Homo sapiens: one gene and its partner. The protein of the gene in region 2 interacts with the protein of the main gene of each other region in a pairwise test. Each region holds a gene or a part of one and is shown on either strand. Other genes may lie near its edges.

What was found.
Region 1: the proteins of PPP1R3F (region 2) and HTR2B interact in a two-hybrid assay, tested with the Homo sapiens proteins (one large-scale study listed by BioGRID and IntAct).

The regions. Positions count from the first base shown.
Region 1 is NC_000002.12:231,122,231-231,126,834, reverse strand, and holds the start of HTR2B (5-hydroxytryptamine receptor 2B), read left to right. Parts: upstream 1-1,792; 5' UTR 1,793-1,833; coding exon of another isoform or gene 1,834-1,863; exon of another isoform or gene 1,864-2,704; 5' UTR 2,705-3,070; coding exon 3,071-3,422; intron 3,423-4,604. UniProt on the Homo sapiens protein: G-protein coupled receptor for 5-hydroxytryptamine (serotonin). Also functions as a receptor for various ergot alkaloid derivatives and psychoactive substances.
Region 2 is NC_000023.11:49,282,973-49,286,792, forward strand, and holds part of PPP1R3F (protein phosphatase 1 regulatory subunit 3F), read left to right. Parts: intron 1-2,861; coding exon 2,862-3,820.

The DNA of each region.
Region 1 (4,604 bases), on a different chromosome or scaffold from region 2:
AAATAAGTAGCTGTTCTAACTAGTTACGTTCCTTAGACATTAAACAGACTTAAAAAAGCAAAAATAAAAAAAATCAGAGTACCAATCTTACTTTTTATAAGTTGAGGCAAAAAATGAGTGAATGTGAGTGAAAGGATTAATACAGGCAAAATACAACAATGACTGCATTTTTATAATATACTTAATATTTAAAAAATTTTATCTATAAACAAATCAATAAAGGCTTATTTCATACAAGTCTTTTCACTGGATATAAAATGGTGCTGCTATTTTCAATCTGACATTACTTGTTTTGCAGATCCCTACCTGCCTTCATAAGCACAGATGTCAAAGTGTAACTCACAACTAAGCAGTATTTAAAAATAATTTCTTTTCCTCTTTTTTTTTTAATCTTGGAGACAAGATCTCATTCTGTCACCCCAAGCTGGAGCGCAGTGGTGTGATCTCAGCTCACTGCAGCCTCGACCTCCCCCAGGTTCATGCAATCCTCCTGCCTCAGGTCTCCCCTGACCCCTAACCCTCAACCCCTCCGCCGCCGCCCAGTAGCTGGGACTACGGGTGTGAACCACCACCCTTGGCTAATTTATGTGGTTTTTTTTGTAGAGATGGGGTTTTGCCATGTTGCCCAAGCTGGTCTCTTCTAGACTCAAGCAATCCACCTGTCTTGGTCTACCAAAGTGCTGGAATTACAGGAATGAGCCACCGCACCTTGCCTTAAAATATTTTCATATTCCTGAATAGAAATTCTGGTACATTAAAAAACATCTGATTTCTCTTGAATATTATTTCATCTAGAATTCTTCACAAGTATTTTTTCTAATATAGTAAATTTTGAGTTTTTAAAAAAGCAGCAAATACTGAATAAAATCTGAAGTGCTCAGCAGAGCTAAAATGAACTAAGTATTTTCCAATAACATTCAACATGAGCAAAGGAATACAAATTTGAAACAAGAAAAGGGCACAAATGTCATCACTGATTTATAAGTAATTAATTTTAAAATATGCATCTATAATGATCTTTTAAAAGGAAACCTTGAGAATGCTGAGGTTCTAATACTAAGCTAGTCTTATGGTTACAGAAAACTTAAATAGCATAACTATTAAGATTTAAACACCAATTTTCTGAAATAAGGCAAAAACGTATTTTCATTACTTGTATTTTCTCCAACGTAAAGTCTATGGGGAAAAAAAGCTGTGAACCACTCCTAAACCCAGAGATCATCTGTTTAAAAATAAGCAGTAAAAAAGTTTCTGCTAAAACCTATGTATACATGTAGAATTCAGGCCTTTCTGTGCTCTTCTATATAAGGTTGCAACCAGAGCAAATTAATGGTGTTCCACAGCAAAGGCACAAAAGCTAGATAAGAATCTTGTTTCACTGCTAGAAATCAGAACTGTAGAAATCACTATAGGCTTTTAAAACGGCAGAATCTTCAAAGAATGAAACCTCTAAAATAGCTAGATTATATCTTATTTTTTCTCAAATGTGAAAAACAGCTCAGGCTTAACCCCAAACAAAACTATCTGAAGCTAAAATGATCAAGTTTATTACAGTCCCCCCAAATATTAAAGAGAGCTCTTAAAAATATAACTTGAATAAGGGCCATGAACTGGTTCAACATGCTTAACAGTGGTTTTATGAATTACAATGAATGCTGCTACTCTCTAAAAATGAATGTATCAAAGAGGAAATAACCTCCTTGGCATGCTTGCAGCTATACAACGTATTTGTTTCACTGCTTTCAACCGCCTGTGCTGGAGGCTCAGAATAAGTCAATGGGAGGAGGATTTCAGTCACAGCAGCAAGCAAGTCTAGTGAACAGATAAGATGACATGCTCAGCAAAATAACAACGAAACCAGAGGTAAGCATTTAATAAACACATATGGAATTAATCTAAAGGTTTTTTTTTTTAATCTTCAAGAATTCTGCTATCATAATCTTTCATTTCTATTCAGCGGTTTAAAAATCAAAATGAAAAATTTACTAATGCTAAAGGAGAGTTTTTAAAAACGTGATTTGTACATTTGATGAACAAATAAATGGTCTAATCTTCCTTTTGGTTTCCCTTTCTTCTCAAGGCAACTGGGAAGGTTAAAAAAATAAACACTACTTAAAACAAAAAAAGAACTGGTTTGAATTTGGCAAATTTAGTGATTAAATTTAGAACACAATTGTTGCAAAGACATACCATGAGAGATGAAATTACTAAACACAATTATTTGGATCCTAGTAATACCTTTTTTTTTCCTTCTCTCAAACTAAAGGAAATCTAAAATGACATTTATATCAGTACTCACAAACCTGATAAGACAAAGCTAATTACATATAAGGATCCCTAGCTGGTAAAACATTTATTTAGACCCTTGTTGGGCTTTGAGTGTTTCTAGGTGGGTGGCCAGCGCATACTAAAAGTTCTATTCTGAACTATTGTGTTTCGACTTTTCTATTCTTCTGTAAGTAAAGGTAAAAAGACATTCAAGGGTCAGGAAACACCTAACTTTTTATTATAACCATTGAAAAAATTAATGTGTCTTCTGTTTCATTAACTGAGCAACATCAGAAATACAGTATATTTGGAGAATTGGCTGCATTGTCACAAATGCACAACAGACTTACTAAGAAGGGAAGGGCTATGAAGTTCAAGTGTTTTTACCACTTTCAGAAATGAATAAAATAATGCAGTCTATGTATTTTGTATCTAGGGGGAACTCTCTGGCATGCAAGTTCAAACACGACTCTACAACTACGGCAGAAAAAGAGAGAGAGAGAAACTAAAAATATATATATATCCTATTTTTTTCACAGCTATCAGTTTCTTTCACTGAGCTTTCCTAAATTTAAGCCTCTAGAAAATAATAAATACTTGGATATCTTACCTACAAACATGGACAGATGTGTGTATGCGCTCATTTTAGAGAACTTGAATTTTTTTTTTTAAAGGAAGGTGTCAACTTTGGCTTTTGAGTGTTTGGCATGGTTACAATGCCTTAAAAAAACAGATGAGCAGCTTAGCTACTAACCATGCTGACCACTGTTCGGAACGGGATTGAATCACAGAAAAACAGCAAATGGCTCTCTCTTACAGAGTGTCTGAACTTCAAAGCACAATTCCTGAGCACATTTTGCAGAGCACCTTTGTTCACGTTATCTCTTCTAACTGGTCTGGATTACAGACAGAATCAATACCAGAGGAAATGAAACAGATTGTTGAGGAACAGGGAAATAAACTGCACTGGGCAGCTCTTCTGATACTCATGGTGATAATACCCACAATTGGTGGAAATACCCTTGTTATTCTGGCTGTTTCACTGGAGAAGAAGCTGCAGTATGCTACTAATTACTTTCTAATGTCCTTGGCGGTGGCTGATTTGCTGGTTGGATTGTTTGTGATGCCAATTGCCCTCTTGACAATAATGTTTGGTAAGTATTTCACTTTGTTTGTGCCATCAAACCACAGAACTATGATATACTATTAGAGAATGGACACTCATTTAATCTTTACTTTTCTTGAAATAAAAGATGAACTTGGACTATTTAAAGATACGGCAAGTAAACAGTCCCTTGTTTTATATCATTCTCTATGGTTGATCAGCAGTTTTAAAGAGCAAAAAATATTTTTTGTAAACTATTTTTCTCCCTCCTAAGCTATCTAATAAAATCATTTAAAAAGTCATTCAAGTTAGTGATATTTATAGATTCTGAATATATTATCTATAAATTATAGTAAATAGGCCTATACTTTAACTTTTCTACACTGATACTTTTTTTCCTCAAAGCAATAACTAGGACACTTCCGGGACAGATATGCGCTGGGTTAACGATAAGGTCTTTGAATTACTAAATCCCAATTTAAATCACTAAACCCCAGTTTAAAATTGGAACTGTCCAAAAATTCTTATTATAGCTCTTAATAGTTTGTATATTATAAACTTGAACACAATTCCTACATATGTGTCATGTTAAGAAAAATTATGTTTAGTTGCTGAAGGAAATGGTTTGGCTCAGAGTGTCCAAAGAGATGATCTATCGATTCAATTTTTTTATGATATATGGGCATCTGTGTTCCTGATAGGCCTCTAAGTTGGTAAGTGGATTAAAACCTAGTTATTGCGATAATAAAAGGTATAGTTTGACACTGAAATCTTAGTTTGCTATAATAAAAAAAAGATATAAGTAGTTCCAGATTTCTGCATATCATCTCTAGTTATAAAATTTGGATAAACACAAATAATTCTGCTGATGAATTATGAGGGCTCCTAGACCCTTGGAATCAGCATTAAAAGGATATTTAACTTATTCAATGCTTGGTATAAACTGATATTCCATTCATAAACTGCCTAAGCAAAATGATTACTTGTGGCAGATATAGTTTCTTAGAATTATATTTACTTATATGAAGATAAAAATATTTTAAGTTACAGAAGTAAAATTTATTAAACTAGAATCCATATTAGAAGGTAAAAAACCCCTGCTATTCCAACTATTATACCCAGGTTTTACACATTACAATTTTATAAGTAATAACAGAAAGATATCTAAAACTATTATCAGATAGTAACAGGTTTACACCTTCCATTTTAAATCAACATTTACCTGGGCTTT
Region 2 (3,820 bases):
TGGTAGGTAGGGGAGGTAGAGACATTTTGGAGGGTGTGTGTGTGTGTGTGTGTGTGTGTGTGAACTTTTTAATTACAAAAAGTTTCAAACATACAAAAGTAAAATAGTATAATGAACCTACGTACACCATCCCCCAGCTTCAGTAAATATCAACACGTGCTCATTCTTATTTTATCTGTACCCCGTCTCCTCCCTCCCATTCCCTCTGGAATTATTTTGGAAGACATCCAGACATCATCCCATCCATAAATACTTCTGTTTGTATCTCAGAAAATTAAGAACTCTTTTTTGTTTTTTTTTTTGAGACAGAGTCTCACTCTGTCACCTAGGCTGGAGTGCAGTGGTGTGATCTCAGCTTACTGCAACCTCTGCCTCCTGGGTTCAAGCAAGTACATCCAGCTAATTTTTGTATTTTTAGTAGAGACGGGATCCGTTGCCTTGGCCTCCCAAAGTGCTGGGATTACAGGTGTGAGCCATCACGTCTGGCCAGAAAATTAAGAATTCTTAACCCCACAATACTATCATCACACCTTAGAAAATAAACGGTAATTCCTCAGTATCATCAAGTATTTGGTCAGTGTTCAAGTTTTCTTCTCTCATAAGTGTTTAGGATCCAAACAAAGTTGACATGTTGCATTTGATTGATGTGTCTCTTTAGATTTTTAAAATCTCCCCCACTTTGTTTCTTTGCAATTTGTTGGTTGAAGAAACTTTGCTTGTCCTGTAGAATTTTCCAGTCTGGGTCTGGCTGATTACATCCAGGTGGAAATACATTTCTTACTCCATTTTTATTAATTTATTAATTATATTAATTAATGTAATCTTATTAAATTTATTTAATTTATCAAATTGTATTAAACGAATGTATTTAATCTTTTATTATTAAATTAACTAGAATTAACTCTATTTAATTCTATTATTCCCACTTCCTTTATTAGCTAGAATTCTTCTCTAAAGAAAAACTGTCCCACACCAGCTATTTGGCTACTTTGAGATATAGTTTGTGCAGAAAAAGCAGTGTAAATATTTAATTTTTTCCATTTTATTTACCAGTTTTCAGAGAAGTACTACTACAAAGGTGACCAATAAAAGGATTTTTGGTTTTGTGTCATTATGAACTCATGAATTCTAAACATATTTGAATGAGTTTCAATCCATTGCACTTATTTGTTTGCTTTTTTTGATGCTTAAATTGAACTATCCCTGGCTAGTAGGAGCTTATTGAGATGGGCTACTCTGTCCTTTTGACACGCCCTCATCATTCTGTGAGCCTTTCTCACATCTTCCATGACAATATGTGCTAGGTTCATCCTGTACTCTCCCTGCCCCAAGCCTGGAAACAGCCATTTCTTTCTTGCTTTTCTTTTCTTTATTTTCTTTTTCTTTTTCTTTCTTTTCTTTCCTTTCCTTTCTTTCCTTACCTTTCCTTTCTTTCTTTCCTTTCCTTTGTCTCTCTCTTTCTTTCTTTTCTTTTACTTTATTTTTCTTTCCTTTCTTTCCTCTCTCTCTCTCTTTCTTTCTTTTTTCTTTTTCTTTCTTTTTTTTTTTTTTTTTTTTGAGTCAGAGTCTTTCTCTGTCGCCCAGGCTGGAGTGCAGTGGCACAATCTCGGTTCACTGCAACCTCTGCCTTCTGGGTTCAAGCAATTCTCCTGTCTCAGCCTCTTGAGTAGCTGGGATTACAGGCACATGCCACCACACCCGGCTGATTTTTGTATTTTTGCAGAGATGGGGTTTCACCATGTTGGCCAGGCTGGTCTTGAACTCCTGACCTGCCTGGTGATCCACCTGCCTTGGCCTCCCAAAGTGCTGGGATTACAGGCGTGAGCCACTGAGCCTGGCCAGAAACAGCTATTTCTTTAAGGAGCACTGATTCCTTTCAGTGGAGAGTGGCATTCAAAGGCCAAGATTTGGGGGCTCGGCATGCTTGCTGCTACTAGATTGGTCATTGTTTCTAGGCCCTTTCAAAAGATGGAGCTAGGAAATAATTGTTTTTTAAAGAGAAGATGATACATCATGGGTTCATATGGACATCCTGGCTATGTTTTGGGATTTTTTTGCATTTTATTTTTTTTAAAATTTTTTTAATTTTTAATTTTTGAGGGGACATAGTAAGTGTATATATTTATGGAGATGTTTTGATATAGGCATGCATTGTGTAATAATCACATCATGGAGAATGAGGTATGCATCTCCTCAAGCATTTATCCTGTGTGTTACAAACAATCCACTTACACTCTTTATTTTTTTTTTTTTGAGACAAAGTCTCTGTCGCCCAGGCTGCAGTGCAGTGGCACAGTCTCGGCTCACTGCAATCTCTGCCCTCTGGGTTCAAGTGATTCTCCTGCCTCAGCCTCTTGAGATTACAGGCGCACAACACCACGCCCAGCTAATTTTTGTATTTTTGGTAGAGACGGGGTTTCACCATGTTGGCCAGGCTGGTCTCGAACTCCTAGTTTCATGTGATCCGCCCGCCTTGGCTTCCTAAAGTGCTTGGATTACAGGTGAGAGCCACTGTGCCTGGCTACTTACACTTTTAGTTATTTTAACTGGCTCTGTTTTGAAGGTAAGCCAGCAGTATTTAGTGATGATCATTCACCAAATATTCACACCCACCGAATTCCTCAGCTTTATAATCTGCAAGAAGCCCTGTTTTACTGCATCCAATTGTGTTATTTTACCATAGATGACAGTCTTTGGAGTCTAGACAGTGACAGAGGGCGCTTTAAGGCATTTTTATATAGAAACCCCTGTGGGGCTGGCTGTGGGCTGTCACACTTCTTACTGTCTCTGCTTGTTCCATCCCCTCCTCTGCTTCATTCCCTTGCTTTTTCTCTGCCCCCTTGCCCCGGCCATGGCTCCAGGTTTCTGACGTTCCGATGACTGGCAACCCCGCAGAAGAAGGTGATGTCCCCAGAAGCAGTCCACCTGTGGCTTTTACAGAGGTCCTCCAGGCACCGGCCATCAGGATTCCCCCCTCCTCCCCTCTCTGTGGCCTGGGTGGCTCCCCCAGAGACCAGGCCTCAGGGCCCGATGCGAGCGAGGGGGCCACCGGGCCTTTCCTGGAGCCCAGTCAGCAGCAGGCAGAGGCCACATGGGGAGTATCGAGTGAGAATGGAGGGGGGCTGGAGGCTGTGAGTGGGTCAGAGGAGCTGCTCGGTGAGGACACCATCGACCAGGAGCTGGAGCAGCTCTACCTGTCTCACCTGAGCCGCCTACGGGCTGCTGTGGCTGCGGGTGGGGCAGGGGGTGGTGGGGAGGGCTCCACAGATGGAGGGATGTCCCCCAGCCATCCCCTGGGCATACTGACGGACCGCGACCTGATCTTGAAGTGGCCTGGCCCTGAGCGGGCCCTGAACAGCGCCCTGGCTGAGGAGATCACGCTGCACTATGCCCGGCTGGGGCGTGGCGTGGAGCTCATCAAGGACACCGAAGACCCTGATGATGAAGGGGAGGGTGAAGAGGGGCTCTCTGTCACACCCTCCAGCCCAGAAGGGGACAGCCCCAAGGAATCGCCTCCAGAAATCCTCTCCGGGGCCCGTTCTGTGGTAGCCACGATGGGAGATGTGTGGCTCCCATGGGCAGAGGGCTCAGGATGTGACGGCCCTGTGGTTCTGGGTACAGAGGGTCAGTTCATTGGGGATCCTGAGAAAGGGATGGGCAAGGACACCAGCTCTTTGCACATGAATAGGGTGATAGCTGGGGTGACTGAGTCCCTGGGGGAGGCCGGGACAGAAGCCCAGATAGAGGTCACCAGTGAGTGGGCAGGCAGCTTGGATCCCATATCTGGCAAGGAGCCAGCCTCTCCCGTCCTTCTGCAGGG